4 linked regions of the Homo sapiens genome follow. The protein of the gene in region 3 interacts with the protein of the main gene of each other region in a pairwise test. Each region holds a gene or a part of one and is shown on either strand. Other genes may lie near its edges.

Region 1 (7,334 bases), on a different chromosome or scaffold from region 3:
ATTCCCGGTGACCATAGTCGAGTTATCATAATAGGAGAAGATGCTCTGGAAGCTGTCTGAGATGGAGGCAGTGTGCACTGGCCTGGCCGTCTGGATTTCTGTAGCATTCTTCTCATGCTTAATGCTGTACAGATAACTTGGGATGATGGGGACTGGGGATAAGAGCAGAATGGCAAGGTGGTGATCACACTGAAACCCTCTCCAGGAAAAAAGCCAGCAAAAAACTATGGTTGTGTCGGCAGGGAGCAGTGGCTCACACCTGTAATTCCAGGACTTTGGGAAGCTGAGGCAGGTGGATCACCTGAGGTCAGGAGTTCGAGACCAGGCTGGCCAACATGGAGAAACCCTCTCTCTACTAAAAATACAAAAATTAGCTGGGCGTGGTGGCACCCACCTGTAATCCCAGCTCCTTTGGAGGCTGAGAAAGGAGGATCGCTTGAACCTGGGAGGTGGAAGTTGCAGTGAGCAAAGATTGCACCACTGCACTCCAGCCTGGGTGACAGAGTGAGACTCTGTCTCAAACAAACAAAACAACAATAACAACAACAAAACTATGGTTGTGTCAAATGCCAGAAGAGGTCCAGAGGGTGACAGGTCTACCCCAAAACAGGAGCCCTGTGCCATATGTCTATAACGACATTGGAGCAAGTTCACTTTACTTAGCTCACTAGAAAGAACCATGCCCCCAACGGCCCTGAGAACTGTCTCCTCTCAAAAGGCAGCTGCTGTGCTGAACTGACTGGTCCCAGAGATTCTGTCATTTGTGGGTTTCTTCCACATTGTTCCTTCAAGGAATATTTCAGAAAAGCAAAATGTGGCCTGACGTTAAGAGAGTGCTGACCTGGAGTCAACCAGTGCTTCTAAGAAAGAGAGGCTCAAAAGACTTTCAAATGAATGAATCAAGGAAACAGAAAACTACACTTCATTATGTGTCTTAGAAAAAAATTAACCTGCAGGAAGTAATAACTTGGAAATTCTGCAACAGGCCCACTTCATCCTTCTATTATGAGTGGGAATCTGTAATTTTTCCTACAACTTGTAAGATTTAAGAATTCCTAAGGCTTTCACAAGGAAAAAGCAAAACTGAAACAGGCCAGGCACGGTGGCTCAGGCCTGTAATCCCAGCATTTTGGGAGGTCGAGGCGGGTAGATCACCTGAGGTCAGGAGTTCAAGACCAGCCTGGCCAACATGGCAAAATCCTGTCTCTAATAAAAATACAAAAATTAGCCAGCTTTGGTGGGGCATGCCGGTAACCCAGCTACTCGGGAGGCTAATGCAGGAGAATCACTTGAACCCGGGAGGTGGAGGTTGCAGTGAGCCAAGACTGTGCCACTGCCCTCCAGCCTGGGCAACAGAGTGAGACTCCATTTCAAAAAAACAAACAAAAACCAAAATAAAAAGCAACAACAAAAAATACAAATTAAATTGTGAAACATATAATCGAAGCTGTGAGCACATGTGTCCAATGGAGCATTCGAGCCGAAGCAGAACTAATGCCGTTGGTACTGAACAGGGATGAGCTCCACGGCTCTGATAACTCCTCGAGATGAAACCTATCAGATGCTCTGAAAACTGCTGTGAGAAAACCTGCAAATGGAGAGAAAGGAAACAGCTCCCACCACTTACAGTCTAAATGAGTCGTGATTTTTTTTTCATTCATTAAAAACTGGGATTTTTTTTTTTAAGGAAATGCATGCCAAATACTTCTCTGTTAATGGGCCTAATTAAGGGACCTGGATTTCGATTATTTAATTTTTCAAAATTCCACTATAGGAAAAATAATAGAACCAAGATTGTTCAAATTGTTCTTGCAATGGTTCCTGAAATATTTCCATCTCAAGTCATTCACTAATACAGTATATCTAAATGTCTTGTTTTTGGAGTAAGGGATCGAAACTTGCTCTTTTAGGTACTACACCAAATTACTAACCTGCCTTTTCGAGTAGCCCAATAATTATTCTAACACGTAATTTTGAACTTTAGGAATTTCTCTTTTGGAACAGAAATCTTTTTCATCGCAGTGAAAGCAGGCAAGAGGATGCGGGAAATTATCAGGGGGAAACATAAGTTCTGGGTCTTATCGGATGTCACAGTTTTTGACCCGAGCATCAGGAAAGCGAAGCCACACAACGCGGCTCCTCCTAGCCCCGGCGCGGCAGCCTGGAGGGGATGTCTTTTTTGCAAAGCGAGTTCTCCAACTTTCCCGGGCCTTGGCGGAGCTCCGGGACCGCGCAGGGGTAAGTGGAGTGCCGGGGAAGGGGCGCTGGGGCTGGGGTGCCGGGGCAGGGGTGCCCTGTCCGCACGTACCCACGACAGTGAGCAGCATGTTGTCCAGCAGCAGCGCCAGGAACACGATGAACAGGATGAGCTTCCGCGAGCGGCGGCTCTCCTGCAGCCAGCGGACCAGCGCCAGCTCGCTCAGGGCCATGGCTCCGGGGCTCCGCTGCGGGCGCGGTGCGCGGTGAGGACCCAAGGCGGCCGTGGACCCCCCATTCTCCCGTCCCCCAGGCCGCGGAAGGGCGGGTCAGGGAGCCGCGCGCACCGGCATCCGGGGACACCCCCGGGCGCCCCAGCCTCGGCTCACCTGCCTCGAGCGCGTCCCCACGAGAGCCCGCGCTCCCTGGAAAGAGCGCCCGCGAGCGCCGTCGGGGACCCAATCTGGAGACCCAACCTAGAACCCCCAGGACGCTGCCCTGATCCCCGCCGCCCCCAACTGTGCCACCTCCCAAACTGCACGCTCGGCCCCGTGCACCTTGCGCCCTGCGCCCTGCGCCCCGGCTGCCCCGGGGTCCCCGCAGCCCCGCCCGCGTAGCTCTGGGGGCCTCCCTGCCTCCCTGCCTCCCCCGGGCCCGCTCCCCTCCGGCACCGCGCCCTGCGAGCAGGGAACCGGGGCCGTGTTACCTCGGGGTCGCTTGCGATGCCTGCCCGGGTCCTCCGTGCCCGCGCCAACGCCCGCACCGCAGTGGGCTCCGTCAGTCCGGGCGGCTCCGGGTCGCAGTCTCCGCCCCAGCGCCCCGCCGCCGCCGCTCAGTTTACCCCGTCCGGCTCTGACGTCACGGCCGGAGGGAGCGGGGGCGGGGGGCTGGGGCGCCCCGGCCTCCGCCCGCCCGCGCCGTCGCTGCGCAGGAGGGGCTGCCGCCTCCCTGTCCCCGCCTCGGCCGCGGCCGCGCCTCTTCCCCGGACCCAGCGCGTGGCCGAGTGCCTTGGGGACCCAGGCCTGGGGAAGAGGCAGGGGCGCAGAGGGAAAGAGGTCAGAGAGCCTGGACGAAGAGTGAAGGGCCAGGGACCAAGGCGAGGAGGCACGGACCAGGGCTTTCTTGTGGCTCCAAGTGGTGGCTCGAGCTGCTTTGAATAAATCACGTGGCTCTTTGAGCCTCAGTGTCCCTGAAATGGGCCGTGAGGACGGGAATGATGGCCGCGGGGTGAGATCGCCAGGGGTGACAGGTGCTGGGAGCCAGGGACAGGCTTCCCTTTCCTGAAGAAGCCACCCTTTGCACCCACCATCCCCTCCCCTCTCCGACCTCTGCAGCCCGATGCGGGGTGCCACTCGGAGGAGCCTTTGAGCCTTGGGCATCCTCAAGCTGGTGACTTGGAAACGGGGGGGGGAAGGGGACACTTTTCAGTGTCGCCCTATGGTGGGAGTTGGGGAGGTGAGGGTCCCAGGTCTCAGAAAGTGGGAGCAGTGGGTTTGGGCCTCTGGGGCCACCTGAGCAGGGGACCCTGGAGGCTAGGTGAGTACACCTGGCCTCAGAGAAAGGGCTAGGGGGCGGGCTGTGGGCGGGGCAGCAGGCCTAGGCCCTGTGTCCTGTACTCTCTCCCCACCATGCTGTGCCTGGGCGTCTGGGTGAGAGGTGGTTCCTAGAGCCAGGGGCCTGCGTGTGGCTGGTGCAGAGCTGTCATCCTCACTGCTAAGGGCTAAGAGCCTGCCTTTGATTTCCAGGTCCCTTTTATAAGCAAAGGAGAAACAAACAGATGCCCTCTGACATCGCTGGAGCTCTGCAGGCCCTCCGAGGGGACCGTGGGAGCAAGAGCTGTTTTCTTGAAAAGCTACCTAGAATAAATGTTACCCTGTCACAGTCTCTTAGCAGAAGAGTGGGCTTGTTTTATTAATGTTAGCTTGTTGACAGCAGGAGGCCACTGAGAACAGCAGTGTGATGTGTGGCTGCCCCCGCTCTCTCCACCTCCCTACTCCCTTGCAGAGACCCCCTGTGCTTCTCATTGCTACCCCATGTGTGAGAAGAGATGGTTGAATAGGTAAGTAGGTCAGGAACATGGGTCTCCAGGATGTCACAGGATGTGCACAACTTAAACATTAAACAGGGAGGACAGAAGGAAAACCACTTAGGAGGAGGAAGCAGATGGCAGAGAGCCGTTTAAGATGGCAGGAGGGTATCACTCAGGGAGTGCCCCAGAGTGCTTGCTCTGGAGTTTCAGAACCCAAGGATGCAGACTCTACCCCAGGGACCACATGGGGACAGAGAGGCATTATGGTAAAGGGTGCCTGCCAGGATGCCCAGGTCCCAGTCTGCTACTTCCTTGACTGGTGGCCTTGGGCTGGTTATGTATCCTCTTTGTGGCTTAGTTTCGCCATCTCTGGAATGGGGATACTCACTGGACCTACTGCAGCGTGGTTGTGAGAATTCCAGGGGAATGCATAGGCAGCTCTTAGCACAGTGCCTGGCACAAAGTGAGAGCTCCGTAAGTGCCGGCCCCTCATTCATGCGCTGAATATGTGTTGAGCTCTTACTACGTGCCAGGCACTATGGTTAATGCTGGGGAGACAGTAAAGCCTAGACAAATCCCTGCTGACATTCTGACCTGATAGCAGCATCATAGCAGTGAACACTGGAAGCCACACCAAACTCCAGCCCAGCCAGCTGGATGTAGATGGCTCCAGGGACAATGCCAGCCCGGCGTTCCCGCCTCCGGATCACTGTCACCACCCCTAGAGCACTATGGCCTATAACAGACTTTTTGTTGAAACCCCCTAAAAAATGTTTAACAATATGTTTGCCTTACACATTTTCAAGTTGGCATCTAAAATGAGTTTTTTAATCATATATTTAAATAGGGTATATTGTATTTATTGACCTTTATGTATAAAATTATTATCTCTCTCTTTTAAATATACCCAAAGGAATTTGTATAAGAATACAAAACTGCCATGTTATACTTAAGAATATAAACAAGTATCCCTTTAACAGTCAAAATATTTACATTGTGTTCTTTACCCCTTTTAAGTATGTTTCCATTCCGTTTTCCAACAGAATTGTATCCTACCCTAATGCTTTTATTGTTTAAATTCTGTATTCATCACCTATCTATTATGTGAACCACAATAAATATGTGAATATGCATTAGCTTTTTAAAATTTTCTACACGTGGACATAAAGATGGCAACAACAGACCCTGGTGGGGACTACTAAAGGGGAAAGGGAGGGAGGGGGGAAAAGGTTGAAAAACTAACTCTTGGGTACTATGCTCACTACCAGGGGGACAGGATCAGTCATACCCCACACCTCAACATCACTCAATATACCAGTGTAACAACCCTGCACATGTACCCCCTGAATCCAAAACAAAAGTTGAAAGTATAAAAAAAAGTTTAGGCACAGTGACTCATGCCTGTAATCCCAGCATTTTGGTAGGCTGAGGTGGGAGGATCTCTTGAGGCCAGGAGTTTGAGACCAGCCTGGGCAAGATAGTGAGACCCTCTACAAAAAAGTTTAAAATTTAGTTGAGCATCGTGGTACACACGTGGGGTCCCAGTTACTTGGAAGGCTGGGGTGGGAGGATCACTTGAGCCCAGGAAGTCAAGGCTGCAGTGAGCCATGATCACACCACTGCACTCTAGCCTGGGCAACAGAGCAAGACCCTGCCTCAAAAATTAATTAATGATTAATTAATAAGGCTCTAAAATTCTCTTTAGGATTATGTGATTATAACAATGATTAATGGTATTTAAGTGATCAAGACATCATACACAAATATGTATTCTGATAAATAATTATTAAACATAAAAAGGAAAATTGTCTTAAAAGTGCATTACTTAAGGGATGGATAGAGAGGGGATTTTTGGAGTCTTGCTGAAAGAGACACCAAAAGTGTCTCTGTTTGGTGCCGAGGATGTTTTTGTGCCTCAGGACACTGTATACAGGAAGGGGGTCAGACTCAGGTTAGATAGGAAGGGAGCCTTTCTTTGCCCAGGGGAAGATGGGAGACTGTGGAGAGGGGAGGCCATGCAGGAGCATGTGCATGTCCCCACCCAGGTCCATATCAGCCAGATAAGCTTTAGAATGGAAGACATGAAAATTGAGGGTCTCAAACGGCTCGGGACATCTTCATATACACTCAGTGTCCTGCCATTCCAGCCTGAAGAGCCTCCACGGCCACTTCTCAAACATCTTAGCCCTCGCCTTCCCCCTCTGGCCACAGTGGTTCCTCTCAGCATTTCTCTGCCCCAGGGCCTTTGCACATTTTCTTTCCGCTTCCTCTTCTTTTCTAGTTATTTCCTCATGGAGGAAAGCATGCTGTCCAGCATCAGACAGGCCCCTCCCTTATAAACCCTCATGAAGGTGTTACTTCTCCTTTTTACTTCACTTCCTCCTTTGAGTAACCCTCAAAGAAACATTACTTCCTCTAGAGTTACTTCCTCTCTAGAGGAAAGTAACTCTCCCTCCTCTCCCTCCACTCACTTGCACCTTTTTTAGACACTGGGGACTGAGGAGGTACAAAGGTGGTACCCGAGTTTACTTTTTCATTACATTTCAATAATTGAGAATGATAATTTCTAAATTCTATTTAGGAAGTAGCCACCTGGGACATAGCAGTTATTTGAAATAGACATTACTGGAGATGCACTAACAGTTTAAGCTGTAGACAGCATCCTAGTGGGGTCTCTTACAAGTTACATGACCTTGGTCATTCTACTTGACCTTTACATACCTGTTTCTTATCTGTCTCTCCAGCAGGATAACAGTCCCTCCCTCCAGCATAGTTATAGAGAGAAAGTGGGATGGGCCTTGCCTAGTGCCTGACATTAGGTGTTCTCTGTTACTGGAAAATGGAAACTGCTGGATACAGGGAAGGTGTAGGTGTTTCCTGGGGGAAAAATCCTCAGGTGCTCCCCCACCAGAGAACTTGGAAACAAGGACAGTACCCTCACCTCCTGGGCATTAAGCTGTGACATTCAAATAATGGGTCAGAGCAGAAACGAACAAAACCATCCCAAGAGACTCAGTGGTTCCTAGCCTAGCCCAACCTGGCGTACTAGTTATCACAGACAGGGAAGGAAGGGAGAGTAGAGTAGCCAGGCAGGAGCCAGCGAGCTGGC
Region 2 (7,025 bases), on a different chromosome or scaffold from region 3:
CTTAGGAGGTTAACTAACTCTTTAGCCTGAAGCTGTTGGCAAGTCAGATACCACATGCCAAGTAACGTGCCACAGTAGTATTGCTTGGATCTTAGAAAATTATGGGATAATAATTACAGCAACTTTGCTCTAGGACCTTTGGAAGGAGTTCCCTCTGTTTCAAAGAAGTACAGCTAAAAATGGCTTTTCCTCCTCCTTACTCAGATATAGGAGGTATAGTAATGGTGAGGCTCTGGAGTCGGACTGCATGGGTTTGATTCCTAGTTTACTAGTTTACGCTTAGTAGCTCTGTGACCTACAGCTTTAATCATGCTGAGTCCCAGTTTCCTAATTTGTAAAATGCAATAATATCTGTATTACAGAATTGTTGTAAGGTTAAATAACATATGCAAAGTTCTTAGAGTAGTGGTTGGCACATAGAAAATGCTCAATAAAAATAAGTTTCGTTACAATTGAAAGATTAATAAAAAGAAAACAGACCTTTCACCTAAATATCAGGTGACTTCCCCTTTTCTCAAATTCCCAAGAAAAAAAATATAGTAGCATAAGATTTTATTTTTTTTTGAGATAGGATCTTGCTCTGTCTCCCAGGCTGGAGTGTAGTAGTGTAATCATGGTTCACAGCAGCCTGAAACTTCTGGGCTGAAGCAATCCTCCCGCCTCAGCCTCCCAAGTAGCTGGGACTACAGGTGTGCACCACCACATCCGGCTAATTTTTGTATTTTTTGTAGAGACAGGGTTTCACCATGTTGCCCAGGCTGGTATCCAACTCCTGAGCTCAAGCAATCTGCCTGCCTTCGCCTCCCAAAGTGCTGGGATTACAGGTGTAAGCCACTGTGCCTGGCCAGCATAGGATTTAAAATTTTAAAGTTGTTTCCTTGGCAAATGTCAATATATACTAACCTCCCGTGTAATAGCCATAAGCATAAAGAACTCGTCCAACAATCCAGGCCAAGCCCAGGCCAGAAGCTATACGCTAAGAAAAAAGGGCTACATTAGTATTTGCATGAAAGAAACAAGCAAACCTTTTTTAACACCTAGGGTTGATTACACAATATGTTAGCAAAAAGTTAACAATTTGATGATTTGGCCAACTACTCCCCACGCAAATTAGGTAGAATTAAGTTAGTTTCAGCGGGAAAATAAAATATCTGTGATTCTTCTATGAATGGCTTGGCTTGTGGACCTGGGAGATGAGTATTGGCCTTCTCCTAGACAGGTGGGATAGAAGGAATCCCCCCACTTGCCCTGGGCATCTTGGGGAACTTGTGTCAGAGCTCAAGAGAAGGACATGTGGGCCAGCCGGTCTCAGGGCAGGCCAGAAAAGAGAACTGCCCCAAAGTCAGGACTAGGGGAAATGCCGTTTTCTCAAATGGGCCTCTGAGCATGAGATTGACTGAAGACTCAGCTGCTGTTCTATGTGAAGTCAGTCACTGGCAGGGCTGGGCTCAGGTGGTTCTGCAGGCTACACTGGGGGTGTAGCTCCACTAGAAAGAAGGGGAGCGCTTCTCCCAGAATACATGGTCTTCGAGGGAAAAGTCTCCCTGTTCCCAATGTCCTTGAGAAGAGAGAATAAAAACTTAGATGAAAAATCCATCCCTTTGGCTGTCATGCTGGGGTGACTTCCTTGGTTAAAATAAGCAAGGAGAGAACACAGAAGACAGCATGTGAGAAGGCCGCCTTCCCCAGTGTCTTTCCCACTCAGCAGTGCTACTGTTAGGGATAAGGTTACTGCATCAGGGTTTTTGTTTGTTTGAGTTGATTTTGGGTAACATTAAATGTCAACAGGAGGGTGAAACAAATGAAAATAACACCAGTCCCTCAAGTCACGATATAGCAGCTCTAGTCTCTGCCAGGCCCTTCTTTACTATAATGTTGCCTAATGACTGGCAACCTAGGAACAATTGTTAGGTGCTTGTCCCCAAACTAGCTCTTATTTTTCAGAACTACCCATAAGGAATGGGATCCAGGGATGTGTGATAGGAATGGGGATGGAGTGGGGACACCAAATGAGGACTAATCTAGAGACCTGAGCTATTCAGATCAGCTAGTCTAGTCACTTGCTAGGAATGGGGATCTTTAGAGGCACCAGAAAGATACATTTTCTAAGAGATACAAGAGCAGTAGATGTTTCTTTGAAAAAAATGCAGGCCTTCAAGGTCATAAGCAGTAGATATGCCATTCTGGCAGCTTTTTAACAAAAGTACAAGGCATTCAGGATGAACCAGATGGTTAGGAAAGGCTTAGAACCAGAAGTCTGAAGGGCCACTCTGGTCAGAACTTGGTTTCAGGAGATAATCTGTCCTCAGAAAAGGGGAACACTTCTGTCTAAGACAAGACCCAAATGGCAATTAATTAGAGGCTGATAAACTTGCTTTATTTAGATATGTTTAAGTGCAGACTAAATCTCCATCCCACAGGGCTATCTATACTGCAGAGGCCTGCAAGTCCCCAGTGACCTGCCTCATCACCCCTCTGCCCTCTGTTGCTGCCCCTCTCCTGGCTCCATTGGCTTCTCACTGCTCACCAAACAAACCAGACAGGTGCCTGCCTCAGGCCTTGCTTGTCTTCTGGCTGGAGGTTGGGGAAACTCGTGCAGCACCTGCTCCCTCACCTCCTTTTATACTTGCTTAACTATCATCTCAGCAAAGCCCCCCTCCCTGACCACCCTATTCAAAATTATCCCACTCCACATCCCCTTTCCACCTTCCCCACTTTGTTTTCTTCTCTGCACTCACCACCTCCTAACACATGATGTAATTTACTTAGGTTGCTTCTTCTCTGTGACCACCCCACACCCCACAACAAAAAGGCAAGCTCTATGAAACCAGGGGTCTTTGTCTGCTTTGATCACTGCTTTACCCCAGGTGGTGAGTGAAAGTTTGTTGTGTGAATGAATTACTATAACAAATGAACTCTTATAGACATGAAACTTAGAACCAGACAGACCTGAGTTCAAATTCTAATCCTTCTACTCTGTAGCTATTTGACCTTGTGAAGTTTAAATAGTATATGAGAGGCTTTTCCTTATCTGTAAAATATGAGGAAAATCCCATCTCCTTTAAAGAACTCTGTAAGAAATAATTGAATAAAATCCTTTTAAATATGCAGTGCCTAGACACTGAAGATATTCATTAAATGTTTATTTCCTTCTTCTGTCCCTGATAATAGCTCAGTGAACTACTATCCAAATAGATGAACACCTCCTGGAAAACTTACCGGGTGGTAAACACCTCCAACAGCTAGAAAAAATAAGAAGGGAGGATACACTTCCAACCTGGAATTGACAGAAAGAAACTTTTAAAAAGTGCCCTTTTTAAGTATGCCTGTGTAGAATTATGAATTTTTTTTTTTTTTTTTTTGAGACGGAGTGTCTCTGTCACCCAGGCTGGAATGCAGTGGCATGATCTCAGCTCACTGCAACCTCCGCCTCCCGGGTTCAAGTAATTCTCATGCCTCAGCTTCCTGAGTAGCTGGGATTACAGGTGCGTGCCACCATGCCTGGCTAAGTTTTGTAGAGATGGGGTTTTGCCATGTTGACCAAGCTTGTCTCCAACTCCTGACCTCAAGTGATCCACCCACCTCGGCCTCCCAAAGTGCTGGGATTACAGGTGTGAGCCCACCTCACCCAGCCAGCACTATGAATCTTTACATCTTCCTTGCCAAGTTAGAAGCTTGGGGGTAAAAATAAACATTCACCGCAGGGAGAAGACCTGGTCACTATCATCCACCCTCCTTTGCTCTGCATGGGATTAGAGGTCACTTGGAACATGCTGAGTAAAAGGACCTCACATCTAACAAATGGAAGTGGAAGGTCCTGGTGAGTCAGAGTGGGTTTCCTTACAGCATTCAAAACCTCTTCACTCCCTAGGCCTGGGAGAGTCAACATCGGTTTAGATGGGTCATGCTGCAAAACTGTAGTAGGTAATGCAACCATGAAGACATTTTTTGAAAAGAATATCCCGAAATCCCACCATTCCAACCACTCTTAAGTTTGCTTAATAGTCAATGTGTTCACATACATAATTTTTGAATACTTTTAATGAGGTGCCCATGATTGTCACCATCACTATGACTCAGCAAATACAGCGCACTAAGGGCTGAGGTGTTAGACAGAAAACACCCACTCTGCAGATGTCTTTGGTGCCCGGCAGGGCCGACACTCACGTGTTCTGGTGGGCTCGCTGAATGCAGTTGAAGATGTGCCCATTTTCAGGGTCCGTGCTGTACATGATAGGATACTGTCACAACAAAGCACATACTGATCAGATGGTCAAGAGGAGCATTCAGTGTTGAAAGTTAAAATGAACCTTAAAAACAATATATTCCAAAGTATCTTCTTTCACACCCTTGATAGATGACCATTCAATTTCTGCTTAAATATTTATGGTGACAAGGGTCTCAATTCTCAGAAGCAGAGTCAATGTTTCTATTAAATATCCAGGAATAAGAATGTATGTCTGCGCTGTAGTTGCACAAGGGAAAGAGGCAGCTTTGCGCCAAACTCCGTGCTTTTCATTGACGTTAAGCATCAATGGTGGATTTCAGATGCATTACAAAGATACTGTAGGGAAATAGAGCCTTCCTAAGAGTCATCAAATACCACATCCTTTTAAGATTTCCCTTAATAGAAGAACAGAAATTGAGTGTGTGAGAATCTTAATGGAAGTGTCCACTGGAAGGGAAAAAAAAGAAGAAACTAAATATAAAAACTTAAAAGAAGCTCTAGTAAGGGAGTTTAATTATTAAGTTGCTAAACAGAAACAGACATTTAAAACCACTCACCAGGGACAACTTTGGTAATTATCCCTTCTAGATCACCTAAAACTAAAGGAAGTGTTTAATAGACCACCTTCCTATGTCTAAGTCCAGGCTAATCTCAACACCACATACCTCTTTTCTACTTGGAAAACAGGAAAATCACCATAAGACATCATTTTTAAAGTGGCACACCATGAAACAATATTGCTATTTAACCCTCTGTGGAAAATACAGTAACTCTCTTCCTAGCAAATAGCTCCAAGCAGAAGTGTACTATTGGAATCCCAGCATTCCTGGTCTTTCTACCGAAGAGACAAAGTCAAACAAGATGGAAACTACTCCCTAGCAGGGCCCTGTATTTCTTGCCTCTTTCCTACCATGAAGAAGCAGAATCGCTAACACAGTCCTGAAACTGCCACTTCTCACAACTAGCTCCTTGCCTCTCCCTCCATGGCTGAAAATAAGTTCTTGGCTAAGCCTGTGGCCCCCAGACAAGCCTACAAGGGCACCAGCTTGTGTTCCCACTTACCTCCACTTTGTACTTCTTGCGGGCCTTGGAAACATTGATGGCTAGGTGGGCCACCATTATAAAGCTGGCAGCACCAGTTAGAAGCACAAAACCATATTCCTTAGAGAGGACAGCCATCTTGCGTCTGTGGAAGAAAGAACACGTTGGGACGGCCCCCAGCACTGTGGCTATTTCATGGTGTGAAGCCTTAGGGAGCAAGATGCTTTATTACTGGCAAATGAGTAAATAGAGACCAAAAAAAGGTATGAATCAATCTGATGTTTCTGAGAAGTCATCAAAGACAGTACCATATAAAATAATTTAAAAATTACTCAACTATGCAGTCTATACACAGAAAAGTATACAGTCATGTATCTTTTTTTCTCTTTTGTGCCTGGGAGATTCTGATCAACATTATGAGATTTATCTACACCACTGCAGTAGTCGTTGCTGTAGAATAATATAGCCAACAAAAATCACATTATTGAAAAAATATTTAACATGGTAAAATGCTAAAGTATACATTACATAGGGAGGGGGAGGGAGGGAGTGAGAGGAGCAGGACATGGTGGGGAGAGGGATGGAGAGGGAGAGAGAGGGAGTGGGGAGGGAGGAGAGGGAGAGAGAGAGAGAGAGAAAGCAAGAAAGTGAGAAAGCAAGAAAGCGAGCATCCAAAATAGTATATGCACAGTGATTCCAAGTTTTTTGCCTTCAGACATGGGGGACACTGTGAGGGCAGGACTCTGAGGCCTCCCTTCGATCCTGGGGCACGTGCGGGTGCAGCAGCAGACATCTCACACAGGTAGGGGAAGGCCCAGGTTGAGTACTCTGAAAGCAGAGCATGGCTCCTGAGCCTATGAGGCTTTGGGCAGCTCCTGAGGAACTCAGATTGCCCATCAAATCATCACTTCAAAGGCTTCCACGAGCCAGCAGCTCTGGTGTGTGTTCTGCCGTCAGCTTTAAAATTTCCATCCCTGGTAATTGCCTGGCTTCAGTCCCTGCTTTTAACCTAGGAGAGTTACCCTGATCTGGAATGTATCTAATCATCCTAACAAACCAACCAACAAGATGGTAAATCCTTATTTTCAAAAGAGGTTAAGTAATGTTTCCAAGGTCTAAAACAGACAGTGACAGACCTGGGATTCCCATTCAGATTCATTTGGTTCCAATATTCCCTTTCAGTATCCCTTGAAACTTTAGAGCCAAACTGACACTGTGGTCAGAGCATCTTCCTTAAAACAGAATTTGGGATAGGCATGCAGCTCAGTTCATTAAAAGTAAGTTTCTCTTAGCACAGCAAAATAGGCCTAACTGCTTTTTTTTTTTTGAGATGGAGTTTCACTCTTGTCGCCCGGGCTGGAGTGCAGTGGCACGATCTCGGCTCACTGCAACCTCCATCTCCCGGGTTCAAGTGATTCTCCTGCCTCAGCCTCCCAAGTAGCTGGGATTACAGATGCGCACCACCACACCCAGCTAATTTTTGTATTTTTAGTAGAAACGAGGTTTTGCCATGTTGGCCAGGCTATTCTTGAACTCCTGAGCTCAGATGATCCACCCACCTCGGCCTCCCAAAGTGCTGGGATTACAGGTGTGAGCCACCGCACCCAGCCTAACAGGCCTAACTTCTTAAAACCCCTCCTCCCCACCATGATTCACAATAATTCTCATCAGTTTTCCCCTTCTACCGTCTTCACTCTGAGCTGCTCTCTGAGGCATGCCCGCTGCCCCTCCGGGGGCTGGGGGGCACACACTGCAG
Region 3 (6,811 bases):
AGTACCCTAAATGTAGTATTTTTAGAACCCTTTCCTAGACTCTCCTCCTTCCCCCTAAGCAAGACTAGGACATCATTCTCTTCCTTCTCCATCCCTCATGGCTCTGGATTTATTGTCAACTCCCTGAGTGCCTGTGTAACTGCAAAAAGTTCAAAAACCTGACTGCTCCTACCTCAGGGGCATGGCTTAGCCTCTGATCATCAGGTCTGAATCATGAAAACTCCTGGAGCTACAGGTTCATTTCTGAACCTGGAGGGGAACAGGGAATTTGCTGGCGCTGTCTGACATTTCTCAAGCACAGTGGCAAGTAGAAGTTGAACTTGTGTACTTTTTCTTGGCTGATCCTTACCTGCTTCAATGAGTTGGCACTTGTTGGGTCTTAACTTGTCTGTGGCATTGTGTTACAAGACCAGAGCACAAAGCACAAAGTTGTTAGGTAATTTTCACCAGTAATTCACTGAGATGATTGGTAGATGCCAAGTTTATTTTAACTCATGAATAATCTGTTGTGTGACTTTTTTTTTTAAGCGTCTTGCTCTCTTGCCCAGGATGGGATACAGTGGCATGATCATAGCTCACTGCAGCCGTGACCTCCTGGGCTCAAGTGATCCTCCCCCCTCAGCCTCCCAAATAGCTGGGAGTACAGGCACGCACCACCACACCTGACTAATTTATTTATTTATATTTATTTTGTAGAGACAGGGTCTCCTATGTTGCCCAGGCTGCTCCCAAACTCCTGGGCTCAAGCAATCCTCCCACCTCAGCCTCCCAAAGTGTTGGGATTACAGGAATGAGCCACTGTGCCTGGCCTGTATGACTTTCTAAATCACTTCTGAGACTTAGTTGGAGACAATACAGCAGAGTTGTTGTGTATGAGGGGTCCAATGTCAGAAGTACCTACATTCAAATGCTGATTTCCCCAGTTAATACTTAACCTGCCTCAATTACTTCAGTAAAATGGGGGATAATAGCAACACCTACCCGATGGGCTGTTGTGACAGTTAAATGAGCGCGGTGGTGCATGGCAAGACCTAGCTGAATGTTAGCTTTTTATTAATAGTATTTCTTTAAAGGTTGTTCATTATACCCTTGCTCACTGTCCTCGTCCATTTTCTGCTTCCTATAACAGAATGCCACTGCCTGCGTAGTTTATAATGAACAGAAATTCATTAGGGTCACAGTTCCAGAGGCTGGGAAGTCTAAGGGCATGGCGCTGGCATCTGGCAAGGGTCATCCTATGGCAGAAGGCAGAACCCAGCACATGAGACAGAGACAGGAAATCAGGCCAAAGTCATCCTTTTTATCAGGAGCTGCATTCCTGGGATAACTAATCCACTCCCAAGATAACGGCATTAATCCATTCATGAGGGCTGAACCCTCATAACCTAATCACCTCTTAAAGGTCCCACCTTTTAATACCATCATCATGGCAATTAAATTTCTTTCTTTTTTTTTTTTTTTTGGTGGAGAAGGGGTCAAACTATTTTACTGAGGGGAATGGGGTGTCAAAGAAGTACTTAGGACCATGAGATCCAACATCCTTGGCTGGACTGGGAGCTCCCAGGCTCTGCAGGAGGTGCAAGAACAGTTAAATTTCAACATGAGTTTTGCTCTTCAAACCATAGCACCTCCATTGGGGGTGGGGAGGTGAGGTCACTCTGTATCAGTGGTTCTCAACTTCATGCAGTGGAACTGCCTAGGGAGCTTTTGCAGATCCAAGGCTAGGCCACACCCAGACAATGATATCAGAACCTCTGGGCTGGGGACACAGACATCAGTACTTGGGAAGCTTCCAGGTGATTCCAGTGAGCAGCCATGGTTGAGACCCACAGTATAACTTGACTCCTAATGAAGATGGGTGGAAGCAGAAGCTTGGGTTCAAATCCTGGCCTTTCTGTGTAGCCCAGTGACCATGGGAAAATGCTTAACTTCTGAGTCACAGTTTCTTCTCGTCTGTACCAGTAGGGGCGAGGAGGATAAAAGCCACCTCACATGATGGTCCTGCAGAGAAGATGACATATGTGCAGTTATTCTTGTTTGAGCACATAACTGAGCACTTTTCTTTATACCATTATATGGCAGTAATCCTACTTGTGTGCTATTTTTAAGTTGTTTTTTATACCAGCTGTATCTTAAGTAGATTATAAGCTCCTTGGGACAGAGCCTTTATAGAGTCTTATAATACTTTTATGCCTATAGCACCTAAGATACAGGGACAGGCCTTCAGATTTTTAGAACTGGCACAAACCTTAGAGAGATCTTCTCGCCAACTCTAAAGTGTTGAATAATACTTGCTGGTTAATTAATATGCAAGTGGTAAAGAATGTGAAAGAGGAACCTGTGAGTCAGATGGTTGTGCCCAGCTTCAGTTGGAAGTCCCAGTCCTTCCTCTCCCAGCTAACAGCACTTTCTTTCCAGGGTTAGTTTGGTGCTTGCTTGGGGTAGGGGTGGAGAAGGATGTTGGGATAATCAGAGCTGAGAGGGTGAGTGTGTCTACCATGGCACTCAGCTCACTGTGCTTCTCTCCTGGCAGACCCAGTCATGGCAGCCTCCAGCATCAGTTCACCATGGGGAAAGCATGTGTTCAAAGCCATTCTGATGGTCCTAGTGGCCCTTATCCTCCTCCACTCAGCATTGGCCCAGTCCCGTCGAGACTTTGCACCACCAGGCCAACAGAAGAGAGAAGCCCCAGTTGATGTCTTGACCCAGATAGGTCGATCTGTGCGAGGGACACTGGATGCCTGGATTGGGCCAGAGACCATGCACCTGGTGTCAGAGGTAAGGAAGGTAGTCCCTGTGTGACTACACACATTAAGGAAAAATAAAAGAAGAAAGGTTGGTAATGGCCACCTCATCTTAGTTCCACATCCTCTCTGGTGCAGAGAGCCCCAAATTCCACAAAAAGAAGCCACACAGCACTTGTCTTTGAATTCCTCGTTATTTGATTGCTGTCCTAGGGCCTTTTAGCTCCACCCCTATCCTTTCCTGGCTCCTGCCCTTTCCTTGCCAGAAAGGCTGGGAAATGAGCCATCTTTATAAGCCCATGTTACTGGGTGACTGTAGAGTCTCACTTTGGTCTAAATCTGACCTAGAATCTCGAAATGGCAAAATATCAAGTCCTGAATCCATTCCTTCACCTGCAGAAGTGGGTTGAGCTTATTGGGAGCCTAAGGCAGGGTTATCTTTTTTTACCTGGTGGCATCCCAAGCATGGTATCACATACTTTTGATAGGCTGGACTGAAGGGCTGAGACAATCATTTATTAAATCCATAATATAGTATAGCTGATAGACTCCTTTTTCACTGGAACATCCTATCCCTTTACAGATGTTCTCCACGCACCTTCATGACTCCCTGGACAGCTAGCAGGCCTCCAGTTTTATAGGGTGACTACTAAAAGTATTTGATTGTCTCCGTCATTCACACACAAGTACACCTACTACTCCCTCCAAAGTATCCCAGCAAAGCAGTTAAATTATGTCCCAGATGCCCTAGTTTCCAGTTCAGGAAGGAGAGACAGCCTGTTGGCCATCCCTGTAGACTAGAAGGTGGATGTGGAAGGGACCCCTCAGCCAGGCCCAAGGCCCCTACCCTCTGACCCAGGCCTGTCACCACTGGGTGAGAAACAGGTCTGAGACATTCCTGCAGTTCTTGCCTGGACAGTGGTGATCAGGCGTGAAGGCGAGGACCGTTGTTCATTATGAACTCATCTCGCTCCGTGCTCTTTCCACAGTCTTCGTCCCAAGTGTTGTGGGCCATCTCATCAGCCATTTCTGTGGCCTTCTTTGCTCTGTCTGGGATCGCCGCACAGCTGCTGAATGCCTTGGGACTAGCTGGTGAGTGTTCGAGTGCTGGGTAGTCAGCCAGAGCTTTGCCTGTACTTTCCTACTTGTGGGAGTTCATCTTTGTCAGGGTCTAGCCTTTTCCCCAAGCTGCTTAACCCTTCCCAGGATTCTGCAGAGACATGGCCAAAGAGCAAGCCAAGAACTACCATGGCCAGGTGTGGTGGCTCCCGCCTGTAATCCCAGCACTTTGGGAGGTCAAGGCAGGAGGGTCACTTGAGGCCAGAAGTTTGAGACCAGCCTGGGCAATATAATGAGACCTCGTCTCTATAAAAAATTAGCCAAGCATGGTGGCGTGTGTCTGTTGTCCCAGCTACTTGGGAGCTGAGGTGGGAGGATCGCTTGAGCCCAGGAGGTAGAGGTTGCAGTGAGCCGGGATCACGTCACTGCACTCCAGCCTCGGCGATGGAGCAAAACCCTGTCCCACCCAGACCCCCTAAAAAAGAACTTCCGCCACCACGTGCCAGTTGTTCACTTCCTATCAGGCATCGTGCTGAGCTGTAGTATCTCATTTAATTGCCAGCCACAGTACAGGGAGGCAGTAGAATTGTTCCCGTTTAGTAAATGAAACTGCAGCTCAACAGAAGCAAGTAATCTACTCCAGGCCTCACAGCCAGCAAGAAACAGAGCTGAGATTCCAACCCATATCACTCTGAGTCTGCGAGAACGGCTTATTCCTTTGCAATGTGCCTAGCACCTCCCACCCTTTTAGCTCTTGCCCCGCTCTCCCCTCACCACTTCTCCAGGTTGGCTGACTCTGTGACTCTCTTGGCTTCCAGGTGATTACCTCGCCCAGGGCCTGAAGCTCAGCCCTGGCCAGGTCCAGACCTTCCTGCTGTGGGGAGCAGGGGCCCTGGTCGTCTACTGGCTGCTGTCTCTGCTCCTCGGCTTGGTCTTGGCCTTGCTGGGGCGGATCCTGTGGGGCCTGAAGCTTGTCATCTTCCTGGCCGGCTTCGTGGCCCTGATGAGGTCGGTGCCTGACCCTTCCACCCGGGCCCTGCTACTCCTGGCCTTGCTGATCCTCTACGCCCTGCTGAGCCGGCTCACTGGCTCCCGAGCCTCTGGGGCCCAACTCGAGGCCAAGGTGCGAGGGCTGGAACGCCAGGTGGAGGAGCTGCGCTGGCGCCAGAGGCGAGCGGCCAAGGGGGCCCGCAGTGTGGAGGAGGAGTGAGCCGGATGCCCCACACACCGCCAGTGTCATACCAAAGAGCTGAGCTGCTTCGGGGCCATGCAGCCCTCCTGCCAGCCCCCTGCCCTTTTCTTGCCCTGTCTCTGAACCTTCAGAACATTGATCCTTGCCGCAGCCCCACTAGCCAAGAGAAACAGAGAAAGACCATTCCCCCTGCCTGTCCTTGCGGCCCTGTCTTCTGAGGTTCTCTGTCTGGGGTTGGCTCTCTTAACCCTTTCTCTGCTCCCAGCCTGCCTCACCAGGGAAGGTTGGAGGGGCCTCCCTCTGGCTTCTGCATCTGCGCCAGCAAACATCACTGCCGTTGGTCTCTCATGACTTAACTGGCTTCCCTCTGCTGCTGCCTTGGCTTCCTCCTAATGCTCGTGCTCTCCTGTCCTTCTGAAGTTGCTCCTTGGCCAAATCTCCAGCTCCCTTCTTGTTTTCCTCATCCTCCTACCCTGTACTCCCACCAAACCATGGTCCTTTAAGGCACGCTCCTGTCCTCCTCATTGCCCAGCAGTAGGGAGGGGCAGGGGTAAGGGGACCTGAGGATAAAGGGTGGGGAAACAGGGTCCCCTGAGGCCTGTGGGGGCTGCAGGGGAGGAGGATGTACCTTGTGTCTCTTTCAAGTGCCTTAATCCGAGCCAGCAGGGCCTTCTGCTTGCCTGCTGCCATACTGTATGTAGGAAAGTGTTCTGTGGCTGCTTTGTGTCAAGAAAAGAGCAGTCACTCTCAGAATCTTGATTCCCCATCAGCCAAAGCAAAAGATGGCTGCTGCTTTGTAGGCATGTGCCTGCAAGTGGGACCTTGCTGGGCATTATATGCCCTGTGGGGGTTTCAGAGACCCTGAAAGAGGAGGGAGGACCCGCCTCCTTGTCTGCACAACTGCATGCACTTCTCTCCCCATCGCTCCACAACCTGAAACCGAGAAGGAGTTGCTGACCAGTGCCCACCCCGGCAGCCCGGGAGGAACACAGGCAGCTCCTTTCCCTTCACGTGGTCTGCAGAGAGCAGGGTGAGCTGCCAGCTGCCCCTCTCCACCAGGGTACCCTGTCTTGGTGGTTAGGGGCCACTTTTCCTTTGAGGCTCTAGTGGAGGTGGATGTCCTTCTCTGCCAGGCTTGGCACATGATGTGAAGAATAAATGCCCAATTCTTACTGTTCAGGTTTGATGTGGAATCACAGCTGCAGTGATATATATTTTTTATCAGTGCTTGGTTGGTTTTAAATAAAGTGCACGCTATTTTATTATCTTGTTCTGAATAAAATGTATTTACTCCAAGTCTGGATTGCTTCCATGTCTCCTCTACTGCTAAACCCATTTCTGTAGTGCAGCTCCGCCTCCCAATTTCTCCCTGTGGGGGCAGTGTGAAGCTGGCAGAGGGGAGAGCTGAAAAGGCAGGCTGGTACCAGGTACCCTTCCCTCCAGGAGCACAAGGAATTAGGAAAGCATGCCCCCATTACAAAACGTAGGAACGACTGGCACTGCTGGAAATGCGTGTGCTTGCTGGGCAGAGGGGTCACCCCTTCCCTGCAGTGTGCTGAGGTGGGTGGGCAGCCTGGAGAAGACTTGCCTGCCCTCCCCTTCACCACCCACCTGAGGACTTTCCTGTGCCAAGGTTTCCAGTCGGCCCACAGGCTGGACCAATTTTGCGGAGGGCCTCAGACATAATTTTTTCTTTGTAAGCTGCCCAGGGCATGAGAGTGTGCAGCTGGGGCCCCTGCTCTGGGCCTCTCCCCAAACTGCCTGGTAGGCAACACTGGGTCAGGACCCTTGAGGCTGGCCTTCCCTCGGGAGTGTT
Region 4 (7,025 bases), on a different chromosome or scaffold from region 3:
TTTTGAAAATTATCTTATGGCACTTATATCTTGTCTAATCTTTTATTTTTTATTTATTTTTAATTGACCTTCCAATGTAGGATTTTAATCTTTTATTATTTTTTAATCTAATATTTTAATTTCTTGTGCATTTATATCCCTTATTACACTGAGATTCCCTGAGAACGAGGAGTAACTATGTTTGAATTTCACTTCTGATACTTCTTAGTTGCATGATCTTTACCTCTTTGAACCTTAGTTTCCTTACCGGTGGAAAGTAAAGATTATTAGGCTGGCCTTGTAGAATACAGATAAAATGATCAGTAAATGTAGATGATAGTTTTCTGTAATCCTTCTATTTTACTTAAGTGTTTGTATCTTCATGAAGAAAAATGGGAAAATAGCATTTACCCTTTTTGATCAAAAGCCTCTTAAACAATTTAATTTGCCATTTGCTTCATACCTGCCCCCAGTCTGGCTAGGCTGGGACATTCAAAGACTCTCAAAAAGTTCATTTATGATCTACATGAGGACAAGCCAAAAAGTTCAGCCCAGTTTTTTTTGTGTCAGTTCCCATGTCACATTGTGTTTTTGAGAACCCCAGATGTGTATATGGGATTGCAAATCACCAGGAACAAGGAATTAAGTACACATTTTGAAAACTGGATTTGGTCTTTCACATATCAAATGCTTGGCTAGAAATAATCAGTGTATACACTGGGAAAATGGCACTTTCATATTTTTCTAATGACTTTAAAATGAAAGTATCCTACCTTCACCTCTCAAAATTCTTCCCCACCTGGTTACCCCTCAAAAAGGTACACAGTATCTAAGTTGGGAATGCATCACTAGAGTTCTGAGACTGAAATCTGATGTTTTTACAGAGGAAGCCCTCTTAATTCCAGCTGTGTCTATTTATAGCATGTTGTGCTATAAATGCATAGCTCAGAGGTGAGGCTTAAACTCTAGCAGGCTTATAAATGAACCCTTAGTCATCTACCACTTCTGGGAATAAGAGAAAAGAAATTCTCACTCACTAAAATCTCAGGAAATTCATTTCCTTCAAGTTTCCCATGTATTACTTTAGGACTGAATCCTTCCTACCAGTTTTATGGGGAAAGGGACAAATAGTGATATTTTGGTTAATACACTTGTGGACTTTTTTTTTTTTTTTTTTTTTTTTTTTAGATGTAATCTCACTCTGTCGCCCAGGCTGGAGTGCAGTGGCGAGATCTCGGCTCACTGCAAGCTCTGCCCCCTGGGTTCACGCCATTCTCTTGCCTCAGCCTCCCCAGTAGCTGGGACTACAGGTGCCCACCACCATGCCTGGCTAATTTTTTGTATTTTTAGTAGAGACGGAGTTTCACCGTGTTAGCCAGGATGGTCTTGATCTCCTGACCTCGTGATCCTCCGGCCTCGGCCTCCCAAAGTGCTGGGATTACAGGCGTGAGCCAATGCACCCGGCCACTTGTGGGTATTTTGCTGGTTGAGAATGTTCCTAAAAATTAGGGATCCTATGATACTTGGTTGTAAATACTACTTTGCCATAGTTTAGAGCAATGGTCCCCAACCTTTTTGGCACCAGGGACCAGTTTCGTGGAAGACAATTTTTCCACAGGAAAGGGTTGGGGAACATGGTTTTGGGATGAAACTGTTCCACCACAGATCATCAGACATTAGGTTCTCATAAGGAATACACAACCTAGATCCCTCATATGTGCAGTTCACAATAGGGTTTGTGCTCTTATGAGAATCTAATGTTGCTGATCTGATCCGTCTGTGGCCTGGGAGTTGGGGACTCCTGGTTTAGAGTATTTTTTTTTCTTTTATTACCAAAATGGCAGTAGAATAAACTTTTAACTAATCAAAGAAGGGTCTGAATATGGACATAAGCCTGTACATTTGAATTTTTGTATTGAACATTCAAGTTGGGCTTACCTCCAGGAAACTCACATACATTTTCTAAAATTGCTTTTTTACTTTAAAAGCAAAAGTTACTATAAAAATTAGAAATGATAGCTCAACAAACAGAAACATTATCTATACTTTATCTCTGGATGTTTTTTGCCTTGATATACGTCTTTTAAACCTTTTCTAGCCTGTATTTTTTCAATAATGAAAGAATGGTATACACAGTGATTTAAAATCTTCTCCCTCCCATCCATGTTATGAACATTTTTTCATATCAGCACATATTCTTTATCATTATTAAAGATTAATTAATTAATTCCATTTTATATGATGAAATCTGTTGTGTCCAAATTTCTCACTTAGAAACTGCTGCATTGAATATATATTTAGCAGTGTTTCTGTACCTGCTTATTTCCTGTGTAAGTTAATTTTTCTGAAAAGATGAAATTATACAACTCTTAAAATTCTCTCATTCTGAAGGTATCTTTTGTTACTACTCCTAATAACTACCATTTATGAATTCCTATGACATGTTAGCCACATGTAGCTCCTCCTTACATACATGAGTATTTATAATGTTTACAAAAATCTGTGAAGTAGGTGTTAAAATATGCCTCCTGAAGTTCTAAAGTAATAAGGCTAAAGACCTTGTAGGAAGAAACAAAAGAAAACCAAGCAAACCATGAAACAAATGAAATTTGTTGTGTAGTAATTTTTGTTGGGTAAGTTTCTGGAAAGGCAGTTAAACATTCTTTCCAAGATGACAACACAGGCTGATTAGTCCAGAGGGCTGTAGTTGTCCCCGTTCCCCATCAGCTGATTTACTTTCAGATCTATTAACCTTAGCACTACTGGAAATCATGTGGAGTAATAAATCCACTCATCACTGAGATTTTATTATTGTAAAGTTCAACAGATAACTGGATTTCCTCTGCTGAGAATCTGACTGTGAGTCATAAGCATTATCCTACACAATAAGAAAGGATGGGCTAAGGAATTACTGAAATACCTAAACTGCCACTTTTTAACGGACACTTTTTTCCTTCTGCCTTCACAGAGTGCAAATAAAACACTTCATGTTGTAAATTGATGAGAGCAGTCCTGCCTGGATGGGGCAAGACAGAAAGGCTGGAAGTTTAGTCTCAAAAACACATGCTATTCAGTTGCAGCAGCACTTTTTAGGGGTAACAGTAGGCCAAATTGAAAAGTCTTGGCAATTTTTGAACTTTCTTCTTAAAAACATATGTATTCAGGATTAAGTGTTACTTTTGGCCACTATGATTCTTCATCAGTGATTCTTTGTCAGGATTGGCAAACTTTTCCTGTAAAGAACCAGGAACTAAATATTTTGGGCTTTGCAGTCTGTTGCAACTACTCAACTCTACTTTTGCAGTGCAAAAGAAGCCATAGATAGTACCTACATAAACAGCACAGCTGTTCCAATAAAACTTATGGACATAAATCTGAATTTCACATAATTTTCATGTGTAATGAAAAAGTATTCTTTTGCCTTTTTAAAATCATTTAAAAATATAAGAGCTATTTCATAACTTGTGGGACATACAGAAACAGAGTCAGCTAGATTTGGACAATGGGCTGTTACACGCTGTTCCTGTTTTATGTCAGCCAACTATTTATTTGAGGAGGAAGACTTGCATAAATTAAATAATGCATTTGATCTTTCTTCCAGCTATTCAAATAAGGGTACATTTCCCAGCTTCTCAGTTTCTCCCTTTTGCTTATTTTGAAGCAAGGCCTTTATAAGGCCTGATAAACAAAAACTCCTGGTGAAAATAAGCAAAAGGGCAGGTAGAGTAAGTGAATATAAATTCCTCTTCAATTAATCAAATTTTTACTATAACTAAGTTTTTCAAATGACTGGAATTTTAGGAGAAAAAGACAAAGAAGGGAAGGACATAGCAGAAGCGAAGGAAAATAAGAGAAATAGAAGGAGTAAAAATGGGAGAAACAAAAATGAAGACAGAATCCTACAAAGAGAGATAGATTAAAAAAGCTAGAAGTGAGAAAGAGGCAGAGTTTACCACATGGTAGCGTCTCGATAAACGTATGTTAAAAAATGATAGTGTTTCATTAGAGATCAAAACTTGCAATTCATTTAAGGCAGAAGATTTCAAAGCAAACAAGCACACACACATTATAGCCTGCCTTTCAAATTAGTATTTTAATTAGGCACGGCTTAGTTGTTCGAATGCCCTTATCCTTAAATCTCTAGAGAAGAAATTATTCTTGGGGCTAGAGTAGCTACAGGCCAGATGGTATCAAGTTAAAAACCATGAGTGAAGACTGTAACTTTTCCTCCCTATTAAAATCCATCTATAGTTATAAATGCTAGACCAAAAGAACTGATACTGATGAAGCACTATGTGGTTTGAATTACAAAGCTTAAAATGTGTTTACTGTGAAATACTAAGGAAAACAAATGGACTAATACTTCTAAGAAAGATTTGCAATAACAGTTATTCTTTGCTTAGCTCAAAAAGAATAAGGAAAGTAAATAAGCATAAATGTCTTATTTCCTAAATATTTTAAGGATTTTCTGTAGTTTTCCTGCATTCAAATGTTTCAGGCCATACAAGAGGAAAAAAATAGGTGAGAGCAACAGCAATAATTTTAAATTTGGACCTCTCAGTCTAAAATAATGCTGCAATAGCCCTTTACCCTTTTAAAACAACATTTATCACACTTGTAATTATTCTATTCAGTTGTGTGTCTTCATGAGATTTTGGTTTTATGAAAACAGTATAGCATAATAGGTTCACAGATGGCTCTGCCACTTACTAGCTGTGTGATCTTGAGAAAGTACCTTATTATTCAACTGTGCCTCAGTCTACCCATTGAAACATAGGGCTAATAAGAGTACCTCCTCAGGTTAGTGTGATGAGTAAATAAGCTAATATGGAAGACACTTAGTGTATATAACAGGTACTCAAAAAACATTTGTTAAATAGTTGCTGGATGAGTTGAGTGTGTTGTTTTTTTGGGGAAAAGAAAAAAAAAAGACTGCCTCTCACATAAGACAAACTGAAACAGCAGACAGGATCCTGGGATACAGTACAGAACCATCTCCTGCCCAAGCAGTTGTCAACTGCTTTCCTCAAGTATTTTCTTTTTAAAAAAAAAATCAGACCTTTTCCAACCATGACGTTAGAGAATTCAGGAAAGCAGAAGAATGGGCTGAACATGGCCCATGTCTGGAAGCACCAAAACATTTATGTTCAGGAAAATTGGAGAGAAAAACAATTTCATAATGGGTATTAAGTTAATTAAATTTCATCTAGGCCTGAAATACATGAAAACAGAACAAAAACCCTCCCACTTTTTAGGTTTTTTTTTTTTTTCCCAGCTCTTTTACTTGGACATCTTAAAATTATTCACAATTAAGTTTTTCTCATATAAGTCTTTGGAGGGTAACATCGTTTTCATTTAAAAATGGGAAATGGAAGCAGAAGAAAACTAGATGATAAAGTTCTCAGTTCTTCACTGTGATTAACAGCTAAGCAGTGGCTAAAAGCTTGCATTTTTGGTGTTAGATTCCAAATCTACCACTAAATTTTCTTATCAGTAAAATGGGGAAAAGAACAGTATTTATTTCACTCAGTTGTTGTGGAGATAAAACGAGAAAATATGTAAAGGGCTTGACACTTAGGAAGTATTCAACAAGCAGTAGCCATTATTATTACCACAACTTTAAGATCACTATTGATAAGTTTAGAGGAAGAAACTTTTTATGAAGTGAATTACCTTTTGGGATCTGGGCACTATGGAGAAAATATCAACTAACAATCTGCTTGGGGACTCTATCTCTGGAGGAGAAACAGACTACACTTGGGGCAGTAAGTCAGAGTTCTAAATGTTCTTGGACCATCCTTCATACAAATCTCTTAAGTGATGGTAGGGTGATCTCAACCTAAATCTTTTAATTATAAATTCCACTCTCATTTCACTATATTCTACTACCTTACCATAGTGCTCACTTTAACTGGACCACAAGTTCAGTATAGTTTTCATTGTCTGAGACTTTAGGACTTTATTGGTTGTATCTTCAAGGATAATCTTCTGAAATGTGAGGCCAAATGCTTGGAGTTCAAGTTTCTTTAGTAGTCCCAGCAGACAGAGAAAGATTAAAAAAGAATGTAGCAACAAGTGTGTGTCAATAGAAAATTATTTTAATTGAAATGATCTATTTTAATTATCAACAAGTGTGTGTCAATAGAAAATTATCTATTGACACACACTTCCTTCTTTCTACTAACCATGACCTCTAAACTTCTCTTTCCATGCTTTAATAAATAAAAGGAGATTTCTTATTAAGGACAATATATTATCTTGGCAATTATAATCCTTTTATTGATAATATAAACCCAGACAAATAGTCTATCTGTAATAATATATAATAAACATAATGGCCATGCCCTAAAATCAACAGCTTAAGTTATAACAAACTTAATAAAATAAATGGTAAACAGAAAAACTGCTCCACCAACATAAGGCTAAGGCAAACACTTAACAATGTTATTTACTCCAGGGGGATTTTTATCTCCCTGCCTGCTTCCTTTTTCTTTGAACAAATGTTTTTGTATACCTACTATGTACTTGATACTGGGCTACTACAGTGAAGAAGGACACAATCTCTATTTTCAAAAGTGTGGTCTAAAGGCCAGGCTTGGTAGCTCATGCCTGTTGTCCCAGCACTCTGGGAGGGTAAAGTGGGATCGCTTGAGTCCAGGAGTTCGAGACCAGCCTGGGCAACATAGTGAGACCCTGAGTTAAAAAAAAAAAAAAAATTAGCTGGGTGTGGTGGTGCATACCTGTAGTCCCAGCTACTCGAGGGGCTGAGGTGGGAGGATCACTTGAGGCTACAGTGAGCTATGACTGCACCATTGCACTCCAGCCTGGGCAACAGAGCAAGACCCGGTCTCAAAAAGAAAAAGTGTAGTTTAATTATGGGAGGGGAGGGGACAGATGAGTCAAACTGATAAATATGTTATGTAATAAACATTATGATAGAGATATGCACAGGATACCAGGCAGACGCAGGGAAAGGGTATTCACTTTTTTTGTAGTTACAATAGTTTTCAGGAAATTGCTTTTCCATGCCTTCTTAAAAAAACTGA

What was found.
Region 1: the proteins of TMEM109 (region 3) and SLC18A2 interact in binary tests that used the Homo sapiens proteins (3 or more experiments, as listed by UniProt).
Region 2: the proteins of TMEM109 (region 3) and MGST3 interact in binary tests that used the Homo sapiens proteins (3 or more experiments, as listed by UniProt).
Region 4: the proteins of TMEM109 (region 3) and STOM interact in binary tests that used the Homo sapiens proteins (3 or more experiments, as listed by UniProt).

What each region holds. Positions count from the first base shown.
Region 1 is NC_000010.11:117,236,789-117,244,122, reverse strand, and holds the start of SLC18A2 (synaptic vesicular amine transporter), read right to left. Parts: upstream 3,010-7,334; 5' UTR 2,903-3,009; intron 2,463-2,902; exon of another isoform or gene 2,445-2,462; 5' UTR 2,430-2,444; coding exon 2,309-2,429; intron 2,239-2,308; exon of another isoform or gene 2,126-2,238; intron 153-2,125; coding exon 1-152. UniProt on the Homo sapiens protein: Electrogenic antiporter that exchanges one cationic monoamine with two intravesicular protons across the membrane of secretory and synaptic vesicles.
Region 2 is NC_000001.11:165,648,230-165,655,254, reverse strand, and holds part of MGST3 (glutathione S-transferase 3, mitochondrial), read right to left. Parts: intron 5,415-7,025; coding exon of another isoform or gene 5,408-5,414; coding exon 5,291-5,407; intron 4,242-5,290; coding exon 4,168-4,241; intron 3,278-4,167; coding exon 3,220-3,277; intron 977-3,219; coding exon 904-976; intron 1-903. UniProt on the Homo sapiens protein: Displays both glutathione S-transferase and glutathione peroxidase activities toward oxyeicosanoids, as part of cellular detoxification as well as synthesis of bioactive metabolites.
Region 3 is NC_000011.10:60,917,153-60,923,963, forward strand, and holds the end of TMEM109 (voltage-gated monoatomic cation channel TMEM109 precursor), read left to right. Parts: intron 1-463; exon of another isoform or gene 464-2,001; intron 2,002-2,533; 5' UTR 2,534-2,541; coding exon 2,542-2,778; intron 2,779-3,733; coding exon 3,734-3,836; intron 3,837-4,621; coding exon 4,622-5,013; 3' UTR 5,014-6,291; downstream 6,292-6,811. UniProt on the Homo sapiens protein: Functions as a voltage-gated monoatomic cation channel permeable to both potassium and calcium. Plays a role in the cellular response to DNA damage.
Region 4 is NC_000009.12:121,360,243-121,367,267, forward strand, and holds part of STOM (stomatin), read right to left. Parts: intron 6,004-7,025; exon of another isoform or gene 5,874-6,003; intron 1-5,873. UniProt on the Homo sapiens protein: Regulates ion channel activity and transmembrane ion transport. Regulates ASIC2 and ASIC3 channel activity.